Linked DNA regions of Homo sapiens. The protein of the gene in region 1 interacts with the protein of each later gene in a pairwise test. Each region holds a gene or a part of one and is shown in the gene's direction. Other genes may lie near its edges.

Region 1 (4,641 bases):
CCAGGAAATCATTAGCAGAGACTCTCAAAGGAAAAGAGGCTTCAAGTTCATGTCACCCAGGGCCACAGTATACGGCCCCGCAGGCTGCCCACCGCGCAAGCCCAGGGAGCAGCCTTTTCATGGATATGATGCAATATGTATGGATCCTGCCATCCAACCCTTATCCAAGCAGGATTCCAGAGGCCTCAAGGCCATTCTTGGAGAGCTCTCATTTTCAGGTGGTTCCTTGCACCAAGCCAAAATCTGTCCCCACCTCCACCCAACAGTGGTTCACACCCTGGTCCCTATTCTGCCCTCTGGAGTCCTACATACAAAGCCTAATCACCTGTTTCAGACCCCACCCAGGCCTCCTAGGTTCCAACCAAGCCAAGAAGCAATTGTGTTTCTGAAGGAGACCCCTCCTCCCTTGTCCCACCTCTGCAGTGGGGATAGATGGAAAGAGCAAGGCCTAGGATAACCTCACACACTAGGTGGCCCCGCCCCTGGCATGCCCACCTCTCTCTGCTTCTGCTCCACGCCCCAAGCCTGGCTCCCAGCCTGAAACACACAGGCCCAGTGCAAAAGTAAAGCAATCAGGAAGTCAGGAAGAAAAGACTGCATTCCTGCTTCCTTCTCAGCAAGTTTTGCAAGCAATGGGCCTCCTCGGGCACAAAGCAATCTCCACAGCCAGGGTTCTCTCAGGTTGCTTTTCGGGGAAAGAGCCTCCAAGCTTCCTGAGAGCCCACCCACCATCCCAGCTGGTTATTCCCTCTGATGGTAAGCATTCCAGGTAGTGTGGAGCAGCCACCACCAGTATTCCTCCCTGGGACTCATACAGTCCCAGTTTGGGGATAAAACAAACATTTCCCCAGAACAGGCAGGGAGGATACTGGCATCCTCTCAGCTCCCAGGAAAAGGGTCATGGACACATCCCCTCCTGGAGGCCAGTGACATTGCCTGTCCCACACCCCCTTGGACTATGCTACCTGTATCTAGGAACCAAAGGCAACACCCAGCTCCTTTCACTCTCATGGGTTCTGGGGACAAATGATAACCCACTGGACATGGGGAGGGCACCTTCCCCCAACCAAGAAACTAAGGAATCAAGAGCGGAGCTGGGAAAAGGAGCTGCAGGGAAGGAGATGGGCTGGACCTAGATTCAGGTGGGCCCTGGGCAGGTCCCCAGTAACTGAATGAATGCCCATGAGGCACACTCAGTGGAGGGCAAAGGGGAGAAATAAGCCCAGAAGCAGCAAAGTGACAAGGGAGGAGTACAAGTAGCACCCAGGAATCCAGCAGAGGTCAGGGAGCTTGGGAGAGCTAGGGCAGGCAGATAAGGTTCTGGGCTGTTCCTCTTTGGGGCGACAGCCAGAGAAATAGCTCAGATAGTTGCATAACCCTTCTATTTGCCCAGAGCTTTTGTCCAGAAACTCTCTGTCCTGAGAGGTGATTAAAGAAGGCATCCAGCAAGAACTGCACAAGAAACGGAGTCAGCCGGAGAACAAGGAGTGGTCTTCCACTGCCTCACAGGAGGATGGAGGCCCACAACGCGTCTGCCCCATTCAACTTCACCCTGCCACCCAACTTTGGCAAGCGCCCCACAGACCTGGCACTGAGCGTCATCCTGGTGTTCATGTTGTTCTTCATCATGCTCTCGCTGGGCTGCACCATGGAGTTCAGCAAGATCAAGGCTCACTTATGGAAGCCTAAAGGGCTGGCCATCGCCCTGGTGGCACAGTATGGCATCATGCCCCTCACGGCCTTTGTGCTGGGCAAGGTCTTCCGGCTGAAGAACATTGAGGCACTGGCCATCTTGGTCTGTGGCTGCTCACCTGGAGGGAACCTGTCCAATGTCTTCAGTCTGGCCATGAAGGGGGACATGAACCTCAGGTAGGCCTGGGGGTGAGGAGGGAACAGCCTGGGACAGGAGCTACATTAGATATGTCACAATTGAGGGGAAGAGCTGGGCTAAAGCCAGGAAAAGGAGTGAATGCAGGCTGGGTGGAGGCTAGGGCAGGGGAAGTCTGGCATTTATTGCCAAGAGCTTATGCTGGGATGGGGGCAGGAGTTGGGGTACGTCTGGTTTAGGCACCAAGCCAAAGGGACCATACTGGTCCAGGAAGCTCGTGGTGATCTCCTTGCTTCCAGAGGTGTCTCAAGGATTGTCTTAAAGGAGCACTGATTAAAGCCAAAGGAACCTCTGGAGAACTGCATCCACCTACAACAGTGGACAAGTTGCCTGCTTTGAGCCCAGAGATTTAAAAGGTAGTGTGATTCGTTCCAAACATCATCAGGGAGATCAAGGTGACTTGGAACCAAATGAGCACCTCAAATTCCTGCAAAGCGGGCAAGAATTTCCAAAAGGTCCTCCCAATTACCTGGTCATCTAAGATGTTTTCTCTTTAAAGTCCCTCATTCCCCATCAGATGCAATGACATTTCCATGCAAAGGCACAACCAGGGAGATCCTAGAGTTTCCCAGCACCCACTCCAGATAGGCCAGCCCCATCTCAGCCACCCTGATAAGGGGAAGACAGCAGCACCCCCTAACCCCCTGCCCAAAGCATTATAAGCAGAAATCAGCAAGGGCTCGCTCCTGGAGACGCAGCACACAGGGGCTGGTTGATGCTCATCCTTCCAAACTGGGGAGACTCTAGTCTTGAACATCTGCCAGAGGAGCTACTTCAGACCTGCTCCAGCTCCAGCAGCCTGTGCTGAAGCTAAAGAAAACTCACTAGCAGAAGCTCTTGCTTTCAGTGAAACCTCAGTCTCAAGCCAGTCCCCCCTGGTTTAGTCCTCCGTGGAGACGCTATTCAATGCCAGGTATAGCAGCAGAACCCAGAAAGTCCATCTGCTTGTGTCTGTCAGCACCCTACTCCTAGCCAAACTTTCCTAGGAAAACTAACCCAGTCAAGAAGCCCCTCCTAGTGATGCAAAATGACACTGGGACAGATTTTTTAAATGAAAAAAGTGAGAATGGCTGGGCACGGTGGCTCACACCTATAATCCCAGCACTTTGGGAGGCCAAGGCAGGAAGATCACTTGAGACCAGGAGTTTAAGACCAACCTGGGCAACATAGCAAAACCCTGTGTCTACAAATATATACATATATATTTAATTAGCCAGGCATAGTGGCACATGCCTGTAGTCCCAGCTACTTGGGAGGCTGAGATGAGAGGATCTTTGAGCCTACGAGTTCAAGGCTACAGTGAGTCATGATCACACCACTGCACTCCAGCCTGGGCAACAGAGTGAGACCCTGTCTCTCTCTCAAAAAAAAAAAAAAAAAGGAAATAAAAAAGTGAGAGTGAATGAGAGTTGGGGTTTAACAGGATCTGCCATCTGAGAAGCTCTGGGCTCTTTTTCCATATGATTCAGCCCTCACTTTAGTAGTCAATGGGAAGAGAGGCACAAAGAGGGCATTTGGCTTGTGCCATCACCCACGGAAAGGTATTTCAATGTTCAACTACCTCACTGTGAGAAAATGCTTTCCTCTGTCTAATCCACATCCTCTCTGCTACAAAGCAAGCCCTTGGTCTTGGATCTGGCTTCTGGACAAGGCTCATGGCAGCCTGTGTGTCCCAAGAATCCTAGAGTATATCTGAATTTTGGTGTATGAGGGATGCAGAAGTCAGGGGCCTGCGAAGGGGTACTCTGAGGGCTTTGTGTTTCTGTGGAAGAAGCAGAGCAGGGGACGTGGAAGGCAACTGTGCTTTTAAGTGTGAGTGGCCAGATGTCCCAGCCCCATCGCCAGTGGCCACTATTGAGGCCTCTGCCACAATGCCTACATTGCTGTGGCTCTAGGCCCCACCCAGGCAGAGCCTCTGGTGACTCAAGAACATGACCCCTCATGCTCTCCTGCTCAACCTCCTTGTCCAGACCCCTGATGACTGTCATTTTTACCTAGACCCCCACAAGAGATAAGCTCTGCTGGGACAGCCACCTTCTGCCATAAAACTCCTTCCCAACAAACAACCCTCCCATGCACATTAAACCATGTCTCAGATCCCACTGTCGGAATGGGAATCTGGTCATCTACCTTCATGTGCTGCCAGACTTCAAATCCCATTCCAATTTGGGACAACTTGTTACATGCATTATAATAATGACAACGATTATAAGAAACAGCCAGGCACAGTGCTAAACACCTTACCTGGATAAGTATATGTGATCCTCCTACAGCACCCTGGGGGACAGCATGTAACAAGTAGCATTTAGAGGTAAGGAAACTGAATCTTAGAGAGGTCAATACATTGGCTCCAGGTCTGGGTGGCTCCGGAACCTGTGCTTTTACTGAAATATCTTCCAGGTCAGCATTTCCACAAACAAAATGGCCAGACAGCCTCAAAGGCATGGGCAGACACCCGTGTCTCAGCAGCAAGTATTGTGTGGGAGCCAGAGCTTCCCACTTTTCAAAAGAAGGTAAAATATCCATTTTATGTGAAATCAGCAACTCATTCCATTTTTTTAAATGTGCAAACCAAACAATACATGTCAAAGGGCCAGCTGTAGCCCAAAGGCCCCAGTTTGAGATAAGCACAATACTCTACATCCCATTTAGAACTGGAAGGAATTGTAAGACACAGATCCCATTTTACACATGAAGAGGCTGAGGTCAGAGACTTGCCAGAGGTTTCCCAGAGTTTGTGGGAAACTGTGTCT
Region 2 (3,983 bases), on another chromosome or scaffold:
TCTTCTGCTTGATCGAATCGGCTATTGAAGCTTGTTTATGCTTTGTGAAATTCTTGTACTTTGGTTTTCAGCTCCATCAGGTCATTTAAGCTCTTCTCTACACTGGTTATTCTAGTTAGCCATTTGTCCAACCTTTTCTCAAGGTTTTAAGTTTCCTTGCGATCGGTCAGAACGTGCTGCTTTAGCTTGGAGAAGTTTGTTATTACCAACCTTCTGAAGCCTACTTCTGTCAACTCGTTAAACTCATTGTCCATCCAGTTTTGTTCCTTTGCTGGTGAGGAGTTACGTTCCTTTGGAGGAGAAGAGGCGTTCTGTTTTTGGAATTTTCAGCCTTTCTGCTGTGGTTTCTCCCCATCTTTGTGGTTTTATCTACCTTTGGTCTTTGATTTTGGTGACGTACAGATGGGTTTTGGTGTGGGTGTCCTTTTTGTTGATATTGATCCTATTCCTTTGTTTGTTAGTTTTCCTTCTAACAGAGGCCCGTCAGCTGCAGGTCTGTTGGAGTTGCTGGAGGTCCACTCTAGACCCTGTTTACCTGGGTATCACCAGTGGAGGCTGCAGAACAGCAAATATCGCGGCCTGATCCTTCCTCTGGAAGCTTCGTCCAAGAAGGACACCCACCTATATGAGGTGTCTGTCGGCCCCTACTGGGAGGTGTCTCCTCCCAGTCAGGCTACATGGGGCTCAGGGACCCACTTGAGGAGGCAGTCTGTCCGTTACTGGAGTTCAAATGCCGAGCTGGGAGAACCACTGCTCTCTTCAGAGCTGTCAGGCAGGGATGTTTAAATCTGCAGAAGCCGTCTGCTGCCTTTTGTTTAGATATGCCCTGCCCCCAGAGATGCAATCTAGAGAGGCAGTAGGCCTTGCTGAGCTGCGGTGGGCTCCACCCAGTTCAAGCTTCCTTGCTGCTTTGTTTACACTGTGAGCATAGAAGTGCGTACTGAAGCCTCAGCAATGGCGGGGAGGCGCTTCCCCTCACCAAGCTCCAGCATCCCAGCTTGATCTCAGACTGCTTGGCTAGCAGCAAGCAAGGTTCCATGGGCATGGGACCCCCCGAGCCAGGCACTGGAGGCAATCACCTGCTCTGCCAGTTGCGAAGACTGGGAAAAGCACAGTATTTGGGCAGAGTATACTGTTCCTCCAGGTACAGTCACTCACGCCTTTCCTTGGCTAGGAAAGGGAAATCCCCTGACCCCTTGCACTTCCTGGATGAGGTGACGTCCTGCCCTGCTTTGGCTCACCCTCCATGGGCTGCACCCACTGTCCAACCAGTGCCAGTGAGATGAACCAGGTACCTCAGTTGGAAATGCAGAAATCACCCATCTTCTGCATCGATCTTGCTGGGAGCTGTAGACCAGAGCTGTTCCTACTGGGACATCTTGGAAGCAACTCTGGGTCTGAGTTTCTGTTTGTTGCCCTGATGTATATCCCCAGTGCCTAGAATGATACTTGTTACATAGGAAGTGCTTGATCCATGTTTGCACAAATGAATCTTTCTCATAATGAGGTTTCTCTAAACAAGCTGTTCTCCCAAAAACTTAAACCCAGCTTTATGTTGAAGCATCTCATTATACATTGGAAAGATGAAATGTGTAGTGAGACTTTGAATCTTCTTTTGAATCTAGAAACATTAGCATTTTTAGACCATTCTATTTTAATATTTATGAAATTTATGAAATAATAAGAAACATGAGGCCGGGCTCAGTGGCTTATGCCTGTAATCCCAGCAGTTTGGGAGGCCAGGGCTAGTGGATCATGAGGTCAGGAATTTGAGACCAGCTTGGCCAACATGGTGAAACCCCACTTCTACTAAAAATATAAAAATTAGCTGGGCGTGGTGGTGCATGCCTGTAATGCCAGCTCCTGGAGAGGCTGAGGCAGGAGAATCATTTGAACCTGGGAGGCGGAGTTTGCAGTGAGCTGAGATCGTGCCATTGCACTCCAGCCTGGGCAACATTGCGAGACTCCATCTCAAAAACAAAAACAAAAACAAAAAAAATGTGTGACCTAAATTAGGCTTATAGATGAACCATTGCAGTCATGATTAATTCCGCCATTGTTTGCCTTGTGATCTTTGGTGCCATGTCTGTACATATTTCATGATTTCTGTGTTTTTACGGTTTCCATTTCAGATCTCCCTTGAGTTTAGAAATCTGGCTGAGAAATACCAAACAGTGATTGCCGACATTTGCCGGAGAATGGGCATTGGGATGGCAGAGTTTTTGGATAAGCATGTGACCTCTGAACAGGAGTGGGACAAGGTTAGTCTCATAAAACAGTGTCTGTGTGTGATGTATTAGACAGAGCTGGCAGTCCTCATAGTGAAGCTCAGAACAAGAAAAGTTGTCCAGTATTTTCAGCCCCTCTGGTTTTACAATTCATCTGTTTAGGTTGAATGTCTCATCATAAACAGTTTATTCCAGAGTTAATTCCAAACCAGCAGCTATGTAGGATATCAGCCAGGCTAGGAGTAGGGTACTGGAGAGAAGTGCTTATCTAGACAAAGGGATGTAATTGACCATGAAGATTAAAACTACACATCAAAACATAAGGTAGGGTTAGGAGTCTTGCCTATTTTTCATAGGAATGGTGTTTGTGAGACTTACTCATCACTTCTGTGGAAGTAAAGACATTTTATTTATTTATTTTAAAGCCAGTCAGATTTAGCAGGCAGAGACATTTCAGACATCTAAAGTGTTGATGTATTTCATACCTTTAACTGTGCTTAAATTAGGATCTCCGAAAAGATGCTGCTACATGGTCACTACGTTAGTGTAGGTCCAAGGTCTTGGGCCTCTTAATTTTTCAAACCTCAAAACTTGACAGCAGTTATCTTTGGAACTGCTGATTTGTGCTTCCTAAGTTAACAGCATACAATGACTGCTAGAAATCAATTTCTGCATTTAAGGTGAAGTTAGCCGGGTACTATGGTTTACCTGTAATCTCAGCACTTTGGGAGGCTGAGGTGGGAGGATCATTTGAGCCCAGGAGTTAGACACAAGCCTAAGCAACATAGCGAGACCCCGTCTTTCAAAAAATTAAAAAATGAGCAGGGAATTGGTGGCATGTGCCTGTGGTCCCAGCTACTCTGGAGGCTGAGGTGTGGGAGGATTGCTTGAGCCCAAGAGTTGAAGGTTGCAGTGAGCCATGATTGTGCCACTGCACTCCAACGTGGGTGACAGAGCAAGACACCATCTGAAAGAAAATAAAGTTGAAGTTAAAACTTCTGGCCAAGAACCAGCACTGGTTATGATAGTAACTCATTTTCTGTTGTGCAGATTTATTCAGGAAACTTAATTTTAGGTTGTTGAATAGAAGTTTTGATCAGATAAAATTGAATTAAAAAAAATTTTTTTTGAGACAGGGTCTTGCTGTTATCCAGGCTGGTGTGTAGTGGTGTGATCACGGCTCCCCGCAGCCTCAACCTCCTGGGCTCAGGTGATCCTCCCACCTCAGCCTACCGAGTAGCTGTAACTACAGTGCATGACACCATACCAGGCTCATTTTTGTACATTTTTTGTAGAGAGAGGGTTTTGCCATGTTGCCCAGGCTAGTCTCAAACTCCTGGCATCAAACAGTCCTCCCACTCTGGCCTCTCAAATGTTGGGATTACAGGCATGACCAGCCAATTATTTCAAGGAGTTATTTTTTTTCTTCTACTTTGGGGGAAGATGAATTATATAAGTCTCCATTTTAGGAGTATTTCTACCAAAAGAACTATTATCTTCAAATATATTTTTGGATAGTACTATAGATATACTAATTTTTTTTTAAATTTCTAGTAATTCTTTTGAAGATTTTGTATAGCTGTCCAAAGCCAATTTCTGTCTACCTAATTTCAGCAAGATTTCACTCTTTTCATGTTACTTTTGTCCCAGAACAAATTTCAAGTGCTTTCTCTTCACCTGTGCATTCTTCCCCCTGATTAGTCTCTGGCTTTGTATTACTTTCAGTCAGAGACGACTTTTTTTTTTTGAGACAGG
Region 3 (4,420 bases), on another chromosome or scaffold:
TGGAGGCAGCAGTTTATCAAATAAGTCAACAAGGTACCATTTTGTTTTCTGGTCCATCTTTGGCAAATGCTTTAGTCTGTTTGCTAACCATTTGAAGGTATATTTTGATACTGAAAAGTTGTTGGCTGGGCATGGTGGCTCACGTCTGTAATCCCAGAACTTTGGCAGACTAAGCTGGGCCGATCATGAGGTCAGGAGTTCGAGACCAGCCCGCCCAACACGATGAAACCCCATCTCTACTAAAAATACAAAAAATTAGCCAGGCGTGGGGGCGTGCGCCTGTAATCCCAGCTACTAGGGAGGTTGAGGCAGAAGAATCGCTTGAACCCAGGAGGCGGAGGTTCCAGTGAGCCGAGATCACACCACTGCACTCCTGCACTCCAGCCTGGTGACAGAACTAGACTTTGTCTCAAAAAAAAAAAAAAGTTGTTATGCAGATTACTAGCTCCCCTTGAAAGCAAAATGAAGGAGGCTTCAAAGGCAGGACCCTCCAGGAATTGGTTCTGCATAGGGGGTTTGCAAGTGGTGGTGCATGGGCAGCTGACCTAGAAGACACGGGGCAGCTACAAGCCAAACCCAGCCCAGCACAGAGGGCCTAAGGAGAAGAAGGCACCAAGGGTGTTCCATGGTAGGGGGAGGGTGAAAGGACTTCAGAGGTGACCAGGATGTGAGCCACTAGAAGGAGAGAACAGGGCCATCAGCCCACAACCCATTGCTCCTGGTAACACGTTATGTTTGCAGAGTCCAGTGGAGGGGACGGGGAATCAATACATCACCCCACATTCACACGCTTGCCAAACATCAGTGGATGGCGAAATCCACTTTCCCTGAATCTAAGCCCATCGGGTTCACTCCCTCACCTACCACCACCCACAAAGGTCCCTATGTAGTTCGAGAGATAAGTGCCAGGCCTCTGACCCCCAGGATATGGTGGGAAGCATTGCTCCTGACCCAGGGAGCTTGGTTCCTGCCCCTCAGGTACAGCTGGAGAGCTGCCGCCACCCCGCTCCAGCCCCTCACCATGAAGGTCAACTCCCCTATCCTTCCCCCACATCCTGGATGACTGACTGACACTAAATGAAAGGGCGGGGCAGGGTGATGGGCTGTACCTGTGCCCCACCCCATTCCTCTCGCCTGGACTCATATGGCAGGGTAGGGGCGGGGTGGGGGGACAGTTGGGAGGGACCTTGAGGGCTTTATAAGGCAGGCCTGGAGCATCAAGCAGAGCAGAGACCTGAGAGGCACCAGGCCCAGCCGTGGCACCACACACCTCCCAGCTCTGCAGGTGAGAAAACCCAGGAGGAGAGGGGAGAGGCTAGGAAGTGGGTTGACAGGTCCTCTCCCCCATCAAGGTACCAGGCCACTGGCCAGAGTCTGGGGCTCACCCCTTGGGGTCTCCAGAGCTGGGACCCTTTCTTTATCCCAGGATGGAACTAGGTCTTGGCTCCAGTACCTACCCTGGTATTCCCAACCTTGCCTTCCACCTGCCCTTCTGCCGCAGCCGGGGCCCTGCCCTTAGCCTATCCCTTCACACTCTTCCCAGCCCTGGGAGGTGAGGAGGACTGGGGTTCTTCTCCTTTCTCTCAGACAAGAAAACTGAGGCCCAGAGGCAAGATGTGACTTGCCCAAAGTCACAGGGATTATTAGGCAAGGCTGGGATAGGAATCCACAGCTCCTGGATCCCACTTCAAGCCCTTTCCTAGACCAGTGCCATCCAAAAGAACGTCCTATGATGCAGGAAATGGTCTTCATCTGCACTGTTCAATATGGTAGCCACTAGCCACGTGTGCGCTTGAAATGGGGTTAGTGTAAGGAAGTTTTTGTTGTTGTTGTTGTTTGTTTTTTTATATAGAGTCTCGCCGTGTCACCCAGGCTGGAGTGCAGTGACATGCAACCTCTGCCTCCCAGGTTCAAGCAATTCTCCTGACTCAGCCTCCCGAGTAGCCGGGATTACAGGCGCCTGCCACAACACCCAGCTAATTTTTCATATTTTTGGTAGAGACAGAGTTTCACCATGTTGGCCAGGCTGGTCACAAACTCCTGACCTCAAGTGATCCAACCCCCTCAGCCTCCCAAAGTGCTGGGATTACAGGCGTGAGCCACTGCACCTGACCATAATTTTTTAATTTAATTAATTTAAATGTAAAGAGCCACATGTGGCTGGTGGCTATAGCACTGAACAACACATGTGGTTAGCATCTGACAATACAGCTCCAGATCACTGATTTTTCAAACATTTCTTCAGCAGCAGAATTCTTTTCTTCCAAAGAAAACCTAACAGAAAACCTGATTATGAAAAACTTAATGGCCAGGCACCGTGGCTCATGCCTGTGATCACAACACTTTGGGAGGCTGAAGCAAGCAGATTGCTTGAGCTCAGGAGTTCCAGACCAGCCTGGGCAACATAGTGAGACCTCATCTCTACTAAAAATAAAAACAAAAAAATTAGCTGGGCATAGTAGTGCACACTTGTAGTCCCAACTACTCAGGAGGCTGAGGTGGGAGGATCTCTTGAGCCCAAGAGGTCGAGGCTGCAGCGAGTCAGGATCACGCCAGCCACTGCATTCCAGCCTGGGAGACAGAGCAAGATTCTGTCTCACAAAAAGAAAAGAAAAAAAGAAAAACTTAAAAGCAGTACAGTATTTTATTAATACAAATGTATTCTGACAAGAGAAAATTTTTATCATTTTCTTATGATAAAGCCAATCAGAATAGTGAGACCAAAAGCATACAAAAATAGTGAGTCCAGGGAATAGATGAGCATTTGAATTTTATGTTTGTTTGAGATTCCAGTTTAGTTCTGTATTATGTTTTCCCCAAACTTGATTCACCCTGATACATAATTGCTAATGGTGACAGCTTAATTTTTTCTTAACTGCTTCATTATAATCACAGGATATTCCTCAGTTAAGCAAAAATGACAGGAGAACCTTTCCTCTCAGGGCTGCACAAAAATCAGTGTGAGCTGGCCAAGCATTGAATGTGCTGCAGTCTCCAAAGTGATAACATGCGGTCTGTAACACAGCTGGATGTCCATGTTCCTTTGGTATTACTATTTAAAAGTTTCACTTTTTGTTTTTGTTTTTTTGAGACAGGGTCTCACTCTGTCGCCCAGGCTGGAGAGCAGTGGTGCAATCTCGGCTCACTGCAACCTCCACCTCCCCGGTTCAAGCGATCCTCCCACCTCGGCCTCCCAAGTAGCTGGGAATACAGGTGCATGCCACCATGCCTGGCTAATTTTTGTATTTTTTGTAGAGATGGGGTTTCAGTATGTTGCCCAGGCTGGTCTCAAACTTGTGGGCTCAAGGGATCCATCCTCCTCAGCCTCCCAAAGTGCTGGGATTACCATGCCTGGCCTAAAAAGTTCACTTTAAATAACAAGTCTTGGGCTGAGCACAGTGGCTCACATCTGTAATCGCAGCACTTTGGGAGGCTGAGGCGGGAGGATTGCTTGAGCCCAAGAGTTCAAGACTAGCTTGGGCAACATGGTGAAACCCTGTTTCTACAAAAAATACAAAAAAAATTAGCTGGACGTGGTGGTGCAAGCCTGTAGTCCCAGCTCTTCTGGAGGCTGAGGTGGGAGGATCACCTGAGCCCAGGAGGTAGAGGCTGCAGTGAGCAGTGATTGCACTACTGCACTGCAGCCTGGGCGACAGAGTGAGACCCTGTCTCAATAAATAAATAAATTACATTACTTAAACAGCTACAGAACCACTAACATGGCCTCAAATTCTGCAGAACAGAACCTAGGGAAACCATTGCCCTAGGATTTGACTTTCTCCAATAGAAGCAGTGGCTGTAATCGGGGTAGGTAAAGAGAAAAAACACAAGACTTCGGGGCTGGTGTGGAACTGGCAGAAACTGGAGAACTGATCTGAAGAAATAGTCCACAACTCCACACAGAATTGCAGACTCACCCGGGTGCGGTGGCTCATGCCTGTAATCCCAGCATTTGGGAGGCCGAGGCGGGTGGATCACCTGAGGTCAGGAGTTCGAGACCAGCCTGGCCAACATGGTGAAACCCCATCTCTACTAAAAATTACAAAAATTAGCCAGGCATGGTGGCACGTGCCTATAGTCACAGATATTCTGGAGGCTGAGGCAGGAGAATCACTTGAACCCGGGAGGCGGAGGTTATAGTGAGCCGAGATCCCACCACTGCACTCCAGCCTGGGCAACAAGAGTGAAACTCTGTCTAAAAAAAAAAAAAAGAAAGAATTGCACACTCATCAGCAGGTAGAGGCCTGGAGCCACATGGTTCAGTCCCCTGCCTCTGGGCCTCTGTGGGGACAGCCTCACCCTTAAGCTAGTCCCTTCTCCCCTTTGCAGACGAGATGCAGCGACTGTGTGTGTATGTGCTGATCTTTGCACTGGCTCTGGCCGCCTTCTCTGAAGCTTCTTGGAAGCCCCGCTCCCAGCA
Region 4 (3,134 bases), on another chromosome or scaffold:
TTATTTAAACTTCTTTAGATGAATACTGAAGAAAAATCCAAACCTTAAAGGAAATGTGCCCTTGTATTTTATGGGTGAGGGGAAAAAGTACATTTGTACATTTCAACATATAATAAGCAAAAAAATTACTAATCAGTTTAATAAAAACATTTTGTCTATTCCTAAATGTAATTTGGTGGGTTAAGCACTTTGTGTAGTAAAATGATATGTGTCTGCTCTATCATTAGACATTTTAAAGTTTCATGTCTTCACGTGAATAATCACAGTTGTATCATGAACCATTTAGCGCTCTGAAGCACAGTGACTTTGCACTGATATTGTCCAACCAAGAATGCATACGAATAGAAATTCATTTTACTTGCTAAATGTCACAGAAATGGTTACTTTTTGCAAATAGTAGTGTTGGAACAAAAAAGTGATATCCAAAAAGTGTAAAAACAGTAATAAGTAGCAAATCTCTCGTGTGTGTGTGTGTGTAGTTACTGAAACACCTACATTTTCCATTTTTAAATTCCACCAAAAGGGGGAAAATAAAATTAAACACCACTGATCACATTTTATATTTTATGGTGACTATTTTAGATTAAGGTTTACTTTGTCCAACCAATAGCATTTAAATTGTTTTCAATTAGGATAGTTTCAGATAAGAGTAAACCAGAAAATTTCAAGTTTGAAAAATTTCTAGAAAAGAATCTGAATAGAATCAAGTATTTACTAGTGAAAATCTGTAGGATCCTTTGTTTAGCTAAAAATTAAATATTTCAGGATATTTTTTGGAAGTTAGCATGAAAATAGTTAGTTACATAAATTCATTTTATTGTAGAATAATTATAAGACTGATAGGCTGAACCATACACAAATAAGGTTGATCTTGTTTTCCTTTTTGGAGAAAGAGAATACAAATTAACATTAAAATTGAAATGTAGAAAGTAAAATATGAATAATTTTTTACAACCACTCCAAATTAGTTGAAACAAAATCTTGAACGGTCACGCACTTAAATTTAAGCTAGCCAAATATGTTGCACTGAATTTTGAAAAGAATGAGTGAGATAACTGTAAGATACGCTCGTTCCCTTTTAAAAATTGTTATTTTTCTTTAACATGGGTGCCAAATCAAATATCCATGGGCTATACTTCTTAAGATAATAACAGCTCAAAATAATATTTTTTAATTCAGTAGAACTAATAGCATTATGGAAAAGATTCTATTAAATGTTCCACAGGCCCACTGGTCCTCTTATATAAGCCAAATTTTGGCCATGGAGCTTGTGATACACTTGCCTTACATTGTAGGGTTTCTTAATTTGAGTCAAGTACACTGAAAGCAATTAAAAACTGGTAAATATTAATTTACTATGTAAAGTGAACTTACGAATTAACTTACTAAATACATATATGTAGACCTTCCCGAAATGCCATTCTCAATTTTATTTTATGGGCTCCAAAAAAAATTATCTGGGTTAATAAGGTTATCTATTAAAGCCCCCAGAATCTCAGCACTAGATGTCATAAATATGAAATAGTAAAAACAAGGTCACTTGAAAATGGGTATTTAATACCTTAGCTGGTGTTTTCAGAAGCATACAGAACTGGAAAGGTAAGAACTTGCTTACTATTGCAGATATACCTGACCACTCACAACTGTCTTTTTAGCAGCAGCTTTGTTAAAACTGCACAAAGCATTCACTTTATTGATTGAGTACAAATGCTTTAGTGTTTCTACCTAAGTATTAGTACATCTGTTCAGGAAATGGAAAAAAAAAATGCTGCTTAAATTTGTTTTATCAGCTGAGGTTGTGGAGGATTTTTGTCCACTGATCTTTTGCAACAGAAAAGCATACTTTGTCAGCTTCTAATAAGATAGCCAGGTTTGAATTATTTGCAAAATTTATATAAGCAAATAAGATCTCTTGGTAACAATTGACATTGCACTAGAATTTGAATGATACTGTTGTTGGCATTTCTGTTTCTCTTTCAAGTAGTTGTAAATAATCTCTTTTTCTCATATAAACGGAATGCATAATGTCTTACTCTTGAGTCATTTAGTATCATTGATATGGTACCAAGTTGTATAGCAGAGTAACAAAATCATGATTTGACAATGAAATTTACATATTGCCTCACCTAGAGATGTTTTGTCTGTATGACTTTTTTTTTTTTAAGTTTGTCTTACTGTTACTTTAAATGTTTTGGGTAAATTGTGTAATATGAAAAGTTCAATAAAATGTCGAAATAAAGCCACTGTTTTTCTCCTACTGATGTGAGAGAACTATTCAGGCTGGTGGTTAAAGATGAAGTATATTTTTTTAGGTAGAAAGGAAGATCAACAAAATATGTGAAGTTAAACTTTTTTGCACACTATTTTTTAAAATCTCTATAGCCTCCTCACCACATCCCTATGACATTTTTGGAGTTGTGCTGTTTGATTAAGAATAAAATAGATACAGAGAGGAGGTGATTTGTCCTGCATTTCACAACTAGGAGAGTAACAACAGAAAAATGACAAATAGGCAGCTCCAGACTCCCATCCCTCCATGGAAAGAGAAGAAAACAACCAGAAACTGTCAGAACCAACTTTGTCAGACTCTGGAAAACAGTCAAAAGTTTACAGCAACTATGTGAATGTTAAATCAAGAAAAAGGCAACTTATTGTTAGGAAAGCTTTGTGGCTTTGACTTACCTTGGCTCCTGTCTTCTCTGTGGTTCAGTGGCATGGCAGTCTTAAAAATGGCAGCTTGGGTGCCCAGTGTGGGACCTGACCCTTGGTTCTAGAAGGAATAGAACAGACATAACTTGCTGGAAGGGAGTAAAACGATGTATTTATAATGCTGGAAATAAGTAATTTCTTTAAAAGGTTAAATAATGTTATATCTAGCAAAACTACCCTTCAAGAATGAAGGCGAAATTAAGACATTCCCGGATAAACAAAACCTAATGAAGTTTGTTATTAGTAGAACTTTCTTACGAGAAATAAAGGGAGTACATCAGGCTGCAAAGAAAAGACAATAGATAGTAACTTGAAGTCATATAAAGAAATAACACAGGTAAATGTAATTTTATAGGTAAGTATAAAAGCCAGTATTACTGTACTTTTAGTTTGTAACTCCACTCTTTCCTGTATAATTAAAAAGG
Region 5 (3,983 bases), on another chromosome or scaffold:
GCCAGGGCCTGAGATAGGCTTTTTTTGCTTGTTTGTTTGTTTGTTTATGAGAGGGTCTTGCTCTGTCATCCAGGCTGGAGTGCAGTGGCTCACTGCGGCCTCAATTTCCCAGGCTCGGGCAATCCTCCCACCTCAGCCTCCCGAGTAGCTAGGACTATAGGCGTGCCTCCATGCCCAGCTAATTTTTGTATTTTTTGTAGAAATGGGGTTTCATCATGTTGCCCAGGCTGGTCTCCAACTCCTAGACTCAAGTGATTTACCCACCTCGGCCTAAAGTGCTGGGATTACGGGCATGAGCCACCACACCCAGCCTGAGATAGGTTTTGAACAAAAGGTTTCTACTGCAGGAGGCTCCAGGAGAGGCACCAGGGCCAGATTCAGACGTGAGTGTACGTGGCTGATGCCAGCTCCATTCCTGAGAGCAGAGTTTGTGGGAGCAGAGGGCAAGTATCCAGAAAGAAGGCTGGGCATGGTGGCTCACGCCTGTAATCCCAGCACTTTGGGAAGCCAAGGCAGGCAGCTCACTTGAGGTCAGGAGTTCGAGACCAGCCTGGCCAGCATGGTGAATCCCCGTCTCTACTAAAAATACAAAAAAAATTAGCTGGGCATGCTGGTGCATGCCTGTCATCCCAGCTACTCGGGAGGCTGAGGTAGGAGAATCTCTTGAACCAGGGAGGCGGAGGTTGCAGTGAGCCGAGATATCACACCATTGCACTCTAGCCTGGGCAACATCTCAAAAAAAAAAAAAAAAAAGGCCAGGCACGGTGGTTCACACCTGTAATCCCAGCACTTTGGGAGGCCAAGGTGGGTGGATCATGAGGTCAGGAGATTGAGACCATCCTGGCTAACACAGTGAAACCCCGTCTCTACTAAAAAATACAAAAAAATAGCCAGGTGTGGTGGTGGGCACCTGTAGTCCCAGCTAGTCGGGAGGCTGAGGCAGGAGAATGGCGTGAACCCGGGAGGCGGAGCTTGCAGTGAGCCCAGATAGCGCTACTACACTCCAGCCTGGGCGACAGAGTGAGACTCCGTCTCAAAAAAAAAAAAAAAAAAGTATCCAGAAAGAGGAGAGCCCAGGCAGCTGTTGGCAGGGCCAGCGACTTCCCTCCTTCTTGGGCCAGTTGTAGGCCCAGGGAGCCTGCACAAGGAGAGGGGTTATGCCATCCTCCTACCCACAGAAAGGGTGGGAAGTGGGGCGCCAGCCTGCTGAGCTTGCTCTCAGCTGGACTCCCCCGCCCGTCCGCATCACAGAGCAGGCGGACTCAACCCCTCTGAGCTCTCAGGCTGATGGGGGAGATGCACTCAGATATAGAGATCATGATGGCAGAAAAGAAGTTCTAGAGTCAAAGTGGTCACACGTGTTGGGGAGCGGTTGCTTCTTCCTGGGGAGCGCTGAGAAGGCTATCTAGGGGAAGAGACATGCAATGATGATGACAATAATGTAACCATGAGAGCAAACATTTGTTGGGGCCTCCCTAGGTGCCCACACCATGCCCAGCTCTTCATACTGAAGGAGGAGGAAAGGGTGATCTGGGAATGGGAAACAGGCCGTGCCAGGGCACAGGGTGTCAGCCAGCAGGAGCAGGGTGTGGGGATCATGCCAGCTGCCGGGGTGAGCCGGCATCAAGGACATCACACAGGGCATCAGGCCCTGTGTTCAGCACCTCACATGTGAGGGGGCTGTTGCTACCCGAGCCACACGACTTAAGGAGACTGAGGCGTGGAGAGAGGGAGACAGTATCACACAGCCCGTGAAAGAGCAAAAGGGCCAAGCCAATAGCAAGCAGACAGGGTTTAGAGAAGGGTCAGCTGTTGTCTGCATGTGGCAGAAACTTGGGCATGTTCCAATAGAAGGAGAGGTGGCAATGAGGCAGGACAAACAGGCTGACATTTTGGGGTCCCCAGGTAGAAGCCAGTCACCGCCTCTGACAGCGAATGGCTGCCCTTTCCCTGGGCTGCAGGGAGGGGAGGTGGAGGATTGGGTGGGATGTACAATAGGTGTGAGGAGATGGGTGGGAAGTTTAGGACCTTCCTGCCTGGCTGCCTTGCAGAGGGTGAAATTTACCAAAGGTGAAGTTCACCTGAAAACCCAACCGCCTTCTTGTGATGGGACGTTTAATGTGCAAGCCACAGGTAGCTCATAACACTGTTAACTTTCGAGCCTGCGAGCAGGAGGCATTCTGATTATCTGTTCATTTCTAGAAACGCTTGAGCCAGAGGGACTGTTTGTTGCCTAGAGAACAAAGCTAAAACATCGGAATGAAATTGAGAGAGAAATAAAATTTCCTATTCTAAGCATAGCCTATGAGTAAGCATCTCTGTGGCTTTTTGGAAAGTGTGTGTCAGAAAATGCATAGAGGCTCACAGAGGCCTGGGAGGGGACCTGTGTCGACTACTCATCTCTCTCCACTAACTTGGCAAAGGCCCCATGCCATCATTGCCCTCATGCAAATAATGTCATTTCAGCCAGGCGCAATGGCTCACACCTGTAATCCCAGCACTTTGGGAGGCCAAGCTGAGCAGATTGCTTGAGTCTAGGAGTTTGAGACCAGCCTGGGTGAACCAGATGACGAAACCCCATCTCTACAAAAAATACAAAAATTTTCAGGGGTGATGGTGCATGCCTGTAGCCCCAGCTACTTGGGAGGCTGAGAAGGGAGGATCGCTTGAGCTCGGAAGGCAGTAAACTGACATCGTACCACTACACTCCAGCCTGGGCAAGAGAACCAGACCCTGTCTCAAATAATAATAATAATGTCATTTCGCCTGGGCAAGAGAACCAGACCCTGTCTCAAATAATAATAATAATGTCATTTCGCCTGGGCACCCCTTTGTGAATTGGCTGGTGGTGGCATGTGTACACGTAGGTACACACAGATACACAGTCACACATAGGCAAAGCAGCAAGATCCCCTCCTGCCTTACAAAGTGAAAAGGTTTCCTCTTAGTCCTGGATTCATCTTGACAAGCCACAGTATTAGCAGGAAAAAAAAAAGATGCTGATTATCAGTTATAAACAGTGAGTGAGAGCCAAGATCCCACAATGACCTTTTGTCCCCTTGTCACTCCAGTGGTCATAAGTGAATGAGGCAATGAATGGGTCACACTTTTGACCCAATTTATTATTTTCTTTTATAAACTCTTCTTTTTTAATGCAAAGGCCCCCATGTGGCTAGTAAGTGGCAGAGCTGGGACCCTCTGCTGGCCTGCCCTTTCATGGTGGCTGGAACTGCAGTGTGGGAGTGATAGGGGCTGAGGCGGGAAAGGTGGTTGGGGCCAGTTGATGCAGAGTCTTCGAAGCTGGGTGAAGAACCCTGGGCTGGGTGCACTGGCTCAACGCCTGTAATCCCAGCACTTTGGGAGGCCGAGGTGGGAGGATCACCTGAGGTCAGGAGTTCGAGACCAGCCTGGCCAACATGGCGAAACCCCGTCTCTACTAAAAATACAAAAATTAGCCAGTTGTGGTGGCGCATGCCTGTGATCCCAGCTACTTGGGAGACTGAGGCAGGAGAATCACTTGAACCTGGGAGGCAGAAGTTGCAGCAAGCCGAGATCATTCCACTGCATTCCAGCCTGGGCAACAGAGCAAGACTCTGTCTCCAAAAAAAAAAAAAAAAAAAAAAAGAACCTAGGACCTTCAGGGCCAGGGCAGCCCCTGAAGATTTATTTTTATTTTTTAGAGACAGGGTCTTGCTCTGGTCATTGAGGTGGAGTGTAGTAGCATCATCATAGCTCACTGTAGCCTTCCTCTGGGCTCAAGTGATCCTCCTGCCTCAGCCTCTCAAAGTGCTGGGATTACAGGCATAAGCCACTGTACCTGACCGATTTTTTTTTTTTTTTTTTTAAGACAGGGTCTCGCTCTGTTGCCCAGGCTGGAGTGCAGTGGTGCAATTTTGGCTCACTGCAACCTCCACCTCCTGAGCTCAAGATCCTCCTGCCTCAGCCTCCTGAGTAGCTGGGACTAAAGGCACGTGCCACCACTC
Region 6 (3,983 bases), on another chromosome or scaffold:
GCCACTGCACTCCAGCCTGGGCGACAGAGCCAGACTCCGTCTCAAAACAAACAAACAAACAAACAAAACAAACTTGACACCACATGCTCTTTCACTGGTCACTCCATTCTTTTTCCTTTAAAGACTTGTATCATATATGCTTGTCTTTTAATTCTTCCAGTCTCTCTTGTATTCATTCTAGTCAGTCTCTCTTCCCCTCTCCCAACCATACTGGAACTGCTCTTACTGAGTTCCCTGATGACCTGTTAAAAATACAGTGGTCATGGCTGGGTGCAGGGCTCATGGCTGTAATCCCAGCACTTTGGGAGGCCAGGATGGGTGGATCATGAGGTCAAGAGATGGAGACCATCCTGGCCAACATGGTGAAACCCCGTCTCTACTAAAAATACAAAAATTACCTGGGGGTGGTGGCATGTGCCTGTGGTCTCAGCTACTCGGGAGGCTGAGGCTGACGCAGGGGAGTCGCTTGAACCCGGGAGGTGGAGGTTGCAGTGAGCCAAGATCACGCCATTGCACTCCAGCCTGGCGACAGAGCGAGACTCCGTCTCAAAAAAAAGAAAAAAAATACAGTGGTCTCTCTTTGGTTTTCATCTTACTTATGAGCAGCATTTGACACAGATGATGGATCCTCCTCCTGGAGGCACTTTGTTTGGTTTCCAGGACACTACCCCCTCCTGGCTCACCTTATGTTCCTTGGTACTTCTTTTTCAGTCCCCACAGCCTATTCCTTCTTATCTTTGTGATCTCTAATTATTGGAATGCTAGGAGTCTGTCTTAGCCATCTTTATCTTTTTAGTTGTTCAGGACAAAAACTTTGGAATCTTCCTTGATTCCTTTTATTTACCCTTCCTCCACCTCCCCAGTCAGTCCATCAGCAAATCCTGTCAGCTCTCCCTTAAAATGTACTTGGAATCTATTTTTCATCACCTCCACTGCATCCATCTTAGACCAAGCCATTACTTCTTGGCCTCGTGATTAAAGTAGTTTCCTAACCAGTCTCCTAGCGTTGTGCTTTTGTCCCTCCTTCTTCTCCCCTCCCCCTCCAGATTTTTACTACAGTAGCCAGAATTCTCTTTCTAACAGGTGAGTCAGAACATGCAGTCTTACACTTAAAACACTCCAATGGATCTCCCTTTCAACGCTTTTTGGTTTTAGCATCTTAAAATGTCATTTAGCATCTTAAAATGTCCAAAATCAAACTGCTGATTTTGCCCCGAAATCTTTTGTGTCCGTGGTCTTCCCCATCTTAGTAAATGTAACTCCAGGAGTGCAGAGCTATTTGTCTTTTTTTTTTTTTTTTTTAAATCTGTACCACTTACAGCAGTACCTGGCACTTGGTAGGCACTCAGTATTTACTGAATAAATGAGAAGAAATGAGTCTTTCAAAGAGCAGGGTAAGAGAATAGTGTTCTAGGTAATATGAACCATAAGTGCAAAAGAACCTGACGGGGCCCAAGTTTGGCATGTTTAAGGAACTGAAAAGAAGGCCAGCCTGGGCATGGTGGCTCATGCCTCTAATCGTAGCACTTTGGGAGGCTAAGGCAGGAGAATTGCTTGAGCCCGGGAGTTTGAGACTAGCCTGGGCAACATAGCGAGACCCTATTTCTGCAAGAAATTAAAATATTAGATATGGTGGCTTGCAGTACTCAGGAGGCTGAGATGTAGGACCTGCAGTAGTGACCCCTGATTGCTCCACTGCACTCCAGCCTGGGCGAGAGCCAGACCCTGTGTCAAAAAAAAAAAATGGCCAGTCTGGGCAGGAGCTTAGGTACTGTATAAATTTCCTGTTGCTACTGCGGCAGTGAAGTCATATGTACTGTTGTAAAGTTCTGGTGGTCAGAAGTCCAGAATGAGGCTCAAGGGGTTAAACATCAAGGTGTGGGTAGGGGTTCTGGAGAATCAGTTTCCTTGCCTGATGCAGCTTCTAAACACCTGGGATCCCTTCCCCATCTTAATGCCATGAGCACAGCCTCTTCAAATCTCTGTCTCTCATCTCTACTTTGCTTGTTTCATCACCTTCTCTCACTGACCCTCCTTTGTTTCCCTTGTAAGGACCATTGTGATCACGTCATCTGACCAGCCTGGGTAATCCAGGATGATCTCTTGACCTCAAGATCCTTAACTTAATCTCATCTGTGAAATTCTTTTTGCCAAGTAAATTTACATATTCACAGGTTCCAGAGATTAGAACCTAAACATTTTTGGGAGGGGTGAGGAGGTATTCAGCCTACCACAGTTAATGAAGAGTGAGTGGCCTGAGATAAGGTCTTAGAGATTGGCAGGGACCAGATCATGATAGGTCATGATAGGGAGTCTGTTTTTCAGTCATAGTGCTGAGAGGTTTCAGTAGGGGAATGATAGGATTTGATGTGAAAAAGTCTCCCTGGCCGCTGGATGGCGATTAGACTGTTGGGATCGAGAGCAGAAGGCCTCAGCTTTTTATTCATAACATCATACGGTGGATCTCAATCTTGCTGTACGTTATGATCACACCTCAAAGCAATTATATCTGAACCACTGAGGGCTGGACCCAAGTATCAGCCTTTTTTTGTTTGTTTGTTTGTTTTTTAAGAAAAAGCATTCTAATTGTAGCCAGGGTTGAGAACCACTAGTCTCATAGATCTGAATCCATTTTACCTTTTCAGCCTTAGCTCAGTAGGAGCTTCTCGCATCCATCACTTACTGCATGAGCTACTTGACCATTTCTTAGACAAACTTCCTGTATTCCCACCTGTGCCTTTCAAAATATACCTAGTCTAGGGAGGCCTACGCGGACTGTCAGGGCCCAGCTGACAAACTCTCCTCCAGAAAGCTTCTCCAGTGCCCTGTAGTAGGAATGATTTGCTTCCTTCCCTGGCTCCCATTTGCACTTAGATTTCTCAGCCCTGATCACAGTCAGCTGTATATTATCGTCTCCTTTGCTTATTTACTCATGCCTTCAACAAATACTGTACCACTTGGCTGAATGCTCTGCTAGACACTAGGATTTACTACAATGCAAAGACAGTCTTGGTTGGGCGTGGTGGCTCACACCTATAATCCCAGCACTATGGGAGGGTGAGGTGGGCGGATCCCTTGAGGTCAGGAGTTTGAAACCAGCCTGGCCAACGTGGTGAGACTCTGTCTCTACTAAAAATACAAAAATTAGCCAGGCTAATTAGCCGAGACACACTCCTGTAATCCCAGTTACTCAGGAGGCTGAGGCACTAGAATCTAGCTTGAACCCAGGAGGTGGAGGTTGCAGTAAGCTGAGACCATACCACTGTACTCCAGCCTGGGCGACAGAGCAAGACTCTGTCTCAAAAAAAAAAAAAAAAACCTTGTCTTCTAGGTCCTCCAGCAGCTTAATCTATATGGAGGTAGGAGCGGGTAGATGTGCAATAAGAATACTCTGAGATGATTGTTCAAATGGAGATTCGTCCAAGTGCTGTGGGAACATGGGGATTTCAGAGACAGGTTTTCAGCTATTTCAGTATTTGAGCTAAAAAACTTGAAGGATGATTTGGTATTTGGTGGTGAGCAGGGCATGAGGAAGGGAAGAGTTTTCTGAGACAACATGTGAAAGGCAGGAGATGGGAGAGAGATTGTAGTGTTCTTAGAGACCATGTAGTAACAGTATTGCTTCAGTGCTCAACAGTGCTCAATGAAGACAGTGTCAGAAGCAAGTAGGGGGCATTAGATTCTGTGATCTTCTATGCTTTATGTGAAGGAGTTAAATTTTATCCTATACTTGTAGGGATGCCATTGAAAAATTTGAGCAGTAGAGTGACATGGTGTGATTTCCATATTGGGAGGATTGCTCTGGGTAATGTAAAGGAGAGGCTGGAATAGAGAGGGATAAAGGCAGGGAGGCTGGTGAGTGCCACTAGGAGAGGAACAGGATCAGGTTTGTTGTAGTTGAGGGGAATTGCAGTGAATTGAGGCGTGAACCACTCTTAGAAGCCTAAGGTTATGGGGCCGGGCATGGTGGCTCACGCCTGTAA
Region 7 (3,983 bases), on another chromosome or scaffold:
CCATTCTTCTCTAGCCTCCACCCTTAGACATAGCTACGAAAGTAAACACTGACCCTTTCCCCCTTTGCTGCTACCTAGGCAGATGCCAGCCCCAAACCTCATCCCTAGTGGAGGCCTTGCTGATGTGGAAGTGGCCAGGGCCCTCATGGAGGCTGGGCAGAAGCCCAAGAGCAGGCTCTAAAGCTGCCAAACCCGGCAGCCCTGGTCCCCGGAGGCTCTTGCCAGTCTGACAGTGTTCTTGGCACTGCTCAGAGGTGAGTGTGGCTGAGTTTAGCAACTCCCCTGGCTAGCGTTAATGCTGGGGTTTCCTCTCCTGTGCCCAGGTCTCTCTATGTAGACAGCTAGGATCTCGTCCTGTCCCCAGGACCAGCTCGGTAACCAAGGACAGGTTCCTGTGCTGTGGCTGTCTAGTTGGTAAAGTGAGGGGTTGGCTGTCCTTGGGTGAGTTTCTTTCCAGCTCTGACCTTTATGTATCTCCAAGCCTGGGCCACCCTCTTCTCCTGGGGCCGTTGGCCAGGCTGTGAGCCCTGTGGTGGTGTGGAGGGCCTGAGTAGTTTGGCTTCCACTTGTGTCAGCCTCCTGTTGAGGCTAAAACCCATGAGAGGGTTTTAGATGGAAGCTATGGCAGAAGTGATGAGAAGGTTGGATAGACAGGGTGTTTTCAGGTTAGGGATTAAGAGCAGGGGCTTGGGAGTCAGTCTTGGGGCTCATTTTGACTTCATCACACTCTAGCTAGGTTATCTTGGCCAAGTGATTTAATTCTTCTGTGCCTCAATCTCTTCATTTGTAAATGGGAATAATAATAACAGTATTAACTTGCTGGACTGTTGTAAGGATTTAATGAAAATAACCAACCTTTATCCCCATTGATCAGGGGTCGGGTTTCATTCTAAGCACTTTATGTGTATTTTCTTTTTTATTTTCTTCGAGACAAAGTCTCACTCTGTCACCCAGGCTGGAGTGCAGTGGCACGATTGTGGCTCACTGGAATCTCCGCCTCCCAGGTTGAATCGATTCTCCTGCCTCAGCCTCCCGAGTAACTGGGATTCTAGGCGCCTGCTGCCATGCCCAGCTAATTTTTATATTTTTAGTAGAGACGGGGTTTCACCATTTGGCCAGGCTGGTCTCGAACTCCTGATCTCAGGTGATCCACCTGCCTCGGCCTCTCAAAGTGTTGAGATTACAGGCGTGAGCCACTGTGCCCAGCCTTCTATGTGTATTTTCTCACTTAATTTTTATAGCAACCCCGTGGAGGGTACTATTACTAGTGTGAGACCCATTTTCCAGGTGAAGAAACTGAGGCATAGTGAGTTGAAATGGTCATGGTAGTTTCTGGTGTGGATGGGCTGGTGGCTGAGGTACCCGAAGGACTGGCCTGGAAACTGCTGTGTGCAGTGCAGGCAGGCCTACTAGCACATGCTTCTGAAACCAAAAGCCTGAAAGGGAGGGGCAAGAGAGGCAGGAGTGAAGCTCTGAGTCAGCACCCGCTGAGCTGCACCAGAACCTTGGAGTCCCCGTGGCCCATCCGAGGCTGACCCTTCTCTCTGAGGCACCTTTCACCCGGTGGCTGCCACAGTCCCTTGGTCTGGAAAGTTAGCTGTTTGCCCTGCTTGGCTCAGAGGAGGGAGCAGGGGCAGCTCTCTGGCCGAGCAAAGGTCAGGCCCTGCAGAGCCGAGTTCCCAGAATCATAGTCTGTTGTTAGAGGGGGCAGTGGGCTTAGAGGTCGTGTCGCCCCCACCTTATTTCACAGAGGTGCACCCTGAGGAGGTGCTGGGACACGTCATGGTGACATCACGGTTGGGGTTTCTGCCCACAGAGCCTTTCCGGCCAGTGCTTTTTTTTTTTTTTCTTTTGAGATGGAGTCTCACTCTGTTGCCCAGGCTGGAGTACGGTGGCGCGATCTCAGCTCACCACAACCTCTGCCTCCCAGGTTCAAGTGATTCTCCTGCCTCGGCCTCCTGAGTAACTGGGACTACAGGTACATGCCACCATGCCTGGCTAATTTTTGCATTTTTAGTAGAGCAGGTTTTCACTATGTTGGCCAGGCTGGTCTCGAACTCCTGACCTCATGATCTGCCCACTTCAGTCTTCTAAAGTGCTGGGATTACAGGCGTGAGTTACCGCACCCTGCCAGCTTTGTATTTCTGACCTGACATTCTTGCCCTGGTTCTATCCCAGCCCCTCTAGGGAGATGAAGAACAGCTTTCCTCAAAATAACCCACTTAGAGACCTGGACTTTTATTCAATTCCCCCTCCTCAACCCTCCCTGCCACCTTCCCCTCTCTGAATTATCCCAGTTGTCATAAAAGAGAAGAGATAAGACAGTCCTTTATTTGATCCCCGAACTATGCAATGTGCCCTAAAAAGAGACGCTGGTCTCTCTTGCTTCCAGCAGAGCCTCTGAGAGCCTCTGGTGTCTGCTGACCTGCATCTGGGGGTGTCCTCCTTGGGGATCCTAAAGCCCCCTGTAGATGCTCTAGAAGAGGTGGTGGCCCTGTCGAGCCCAGACTGCCAGGGCTTGTCCTTACTGGGGATGCAGGGGCCCTCTAGGGGCTTCCTTAGCTCCTCCTAAGCCTGCATCTCTGCTACCTCAGAGGGGACCACCAGGCCCAGAGGACAGTAACTGGCAGAGGAGGCATAAGAGCACCGCATAACATGAAGGACCTGGACCCAGGATCTGGAAGGCCTCCGTCCTGGTTATGCCACTGACCTGCGAGTTCTGGGGTTCTGGGGAATCACTTCCCTGTTCAGGGCCTGCATTCTCTCATCTGAAGTGAGCATTTGGGGCTTATGGCCCTGAGGTCCCTTCCAACTCCAGTTTGGGGTTCCCTCCCCCTGGTTTCTTGGCCCTCCCCTGGCTATGGGGCTCTTCCTGCTGCAGGGAAGGCATTCCCTTGACCTTGTGGCCTGACTCCTCAGCTCTTTGTCCTCCCTGCTAGCACTGCACCTGGAAGACAGGTAGAACTCACAGAGAGCCTGGGATTCAGAACATCTGTCTCCCCCTCCAGGGTGGGGGTAAGGGGGAGGGCGAGGGGCCGTGCACTCACTCTCTCTTCCCTAGCAAGGCCAGAGAGCAGCTGTGGTCGCAGGCTGCCGCATGCCTTTCTGACACGCCACCGCTGTTATTTGAAGGAACCAGAAAGTCCTGTCTCAAGCTGGCCCTTTGGCACAGCCTCCCTGCCCCCAGCCCCTGTACCACCCACTCCTGCTTCTCAGGCTTCCTGACTCAGCCTGCCACTGGCCCCCGGGTCCCTGGATCCCTTCCTCCTCGGGGCCTGGCAGCTCTGGCACTGGGGCTAGCTTGTTTTCCTCCACTTCTTCCCCCGGCTCTCCACTTTGAGCCTTGGCTCCAACCCAGCTCTGGCTTCCAGGCCTGGCATCCCCGTCAGCTGTGGCAGGGGCAGAGCTGACCCTTTCAGAGGGTCCCAGCTGGCCCTGTGAGTCGCCAGGAGGCTGTGCCTGGCCCATCTGGCTTCTTCGCTGGTTCTGCCATCAAGCCACCAAAACTGGAAGGTTTTCTTAAACCACAACAGGGAGTTCCCAGGCTCCCTGGTTCCCTCTCTCCTCAGCGAATCCTTCCTCCTGCTTTCCTATGGCTGGGGAGCTGCACAGTGAGAGGCCTGTGGACAAGAAGCAGGCGCAAAGGCAGGAGGGACAGGAGCCCAGTTGGTGGGGAGGTGGCCTGTGGACAGCAAATCACACGCTGCCCTCTAAGGAGAAAATAGGTGGTGTTCCTCTCCACGGAGGCAGCCTGGACAAGGCTGGAAGTGGGCCCATGAGGCTGAGTGAGCTGGGCCTGGGCATTCACGATTGCTTTTCTCCTCTCCCATTTCAGGTCCCAGCAGCTGGGGTTCCCCCTCAGCCCGTGAGCAGCCATGTCCAACCCCAGCGCCCCACCACCATATGAAGACCGCAACCCCCTGTACCCAGGCCCTCCGCCCCCTGGGGGCTATGGGCAGCCATCTGTCCTGCCAGGAGGGTAT

The links.
Region 2: the proteins of SLC10A1 (region 1) and FDFT1 interact in binary tests that used the Homo sapiens proteins (3 or more experiments, as listed by UniProt).
Region 3: the proteins of SLC10A1 (region 1) and GAST interact in binary tests that used the Homo sapiens proteins (3 or more experiments, as listed by UniProt).
Region 4: the proteins of SLC10A1 (region 1) and SLC25A46 interact in binary tests that used the Homo sapiens proteins (3 or more experiments, as listed by UniProt).
Region 5: the proteins of SLC10A1 (region 1) and SLC35E4 interact in binary tests that used the Homo sapiens proteins (3 or more experiments, as listed by UniProt).
Region 6: the proteins of SLC10A1 (region 1) and TVP23B interact in binary tests that used the Homo sapiens proteins (3 or more experiments, as listed by UniProt).
Region 7: the proteins of SLC10A1 (region 1) and TMBIM1 interact in binary tests that used the Homo sapiens proteins (3 or more experiments, as listed by UniProt).

Annotation. Positions count from the first base shown.
Region 1 is NC_000014.9:69,794,028-69,798,668, reverse strand, and holds the start of SLC10A1 (hepatic sodium/bile acid cotransporter), read left to right. Parts: upstream 1-1,427; 5' UTR 1,428-1,513; coding exon 1,514-1,869; intron 1,870-4,641. UniProt on the Homo sapiens protein: As a major transporter of conjugated bile salts from plasma into the hepatocyte, it plays a key role in the enterohepatic circulation of bile salts necessary for the solubilization and absorption of dietary fat and fat-soluble vitamins.
Region 2 is NC_000008.11:11,819,618-11,823,600, forward strand, and holds part of FDFT1 (squalene synthase), read left to right. Parts: intron 1-2,132; coding exon 2,133-2,261; intron 2,262-3,983. UniProt on the Homo sapiens protein: Catalyzes the condensation of 2 farnesyl pyrophosphate (FPP) moieties to form squalene. Proceeds in two distinct steps.
Region 3 is NC_000017.11:41,711,103-41,715,522, forward strand, and holds the start of GAST (gastrin preproprotein), read left to right. Parts: upstream 1-1,228; 5' UTR 1,229-1,285; intron 1,286-4,329; 5' UTR 4,330-4,334; coding exon 4,335-4,420. UniProt on the Homo sapiens protein: Gastrin stimulates the stomach mucosa to produce and secrete hydrochloric acid and the pancreas to secrete its digestive enzymes. It also stimulates smooth muscle contraction and increases blood circulation and water secretion in the stomach and intestine.
Region 4 is NC_000005.10:110,762,919-110,766,052, forward strand, and holds the end of SLC25A46 (mitochondrial outer membrane protein SLC25A46), read left to right. Parts: 3' UTR 1-2,239; downstream 2,240-3,134. UniProt on the Homo sapiens protein: Transmembrane protein of the mitochondrial outer membrane that controls mitochondrial organization.
Region 5 is NC_000022.11:30,641,995-30,645,977, forward strand, and holds part of SLC35E4 (solute carrier family 35 member E4), read left to right. Parts: intron 1-3,983. UniProt on the Homo sapiens protein: Putative transporter.
Region 6 is NC_000017.11:18,784,102-18,788,084, forward strand, and holds part of TVP23B (Golgi apparatus membrane protein TVP23 homolog B), read left to right. Parts: intron 1-3,983.
Region 7 is NC_000002.12:218,282,034-218,286,016, reverse strand, and holds part of TMBIM1 (protein lifeguard 3), read left to right. Parts: intron 1-78; exon of another isoform or gene 79-254; intron 255-1,880; exon of another isoform or gene 1,881-1,978; intron 1,979-3,835; 5' UTR 3,836-3,875; coding exon 3,876-3,983. UniProt on the Homo sapiens protein: Negatively regulates aortic matrix metalloproteinase-9 (MMP9) production and may play a protective role in vascular remodeling.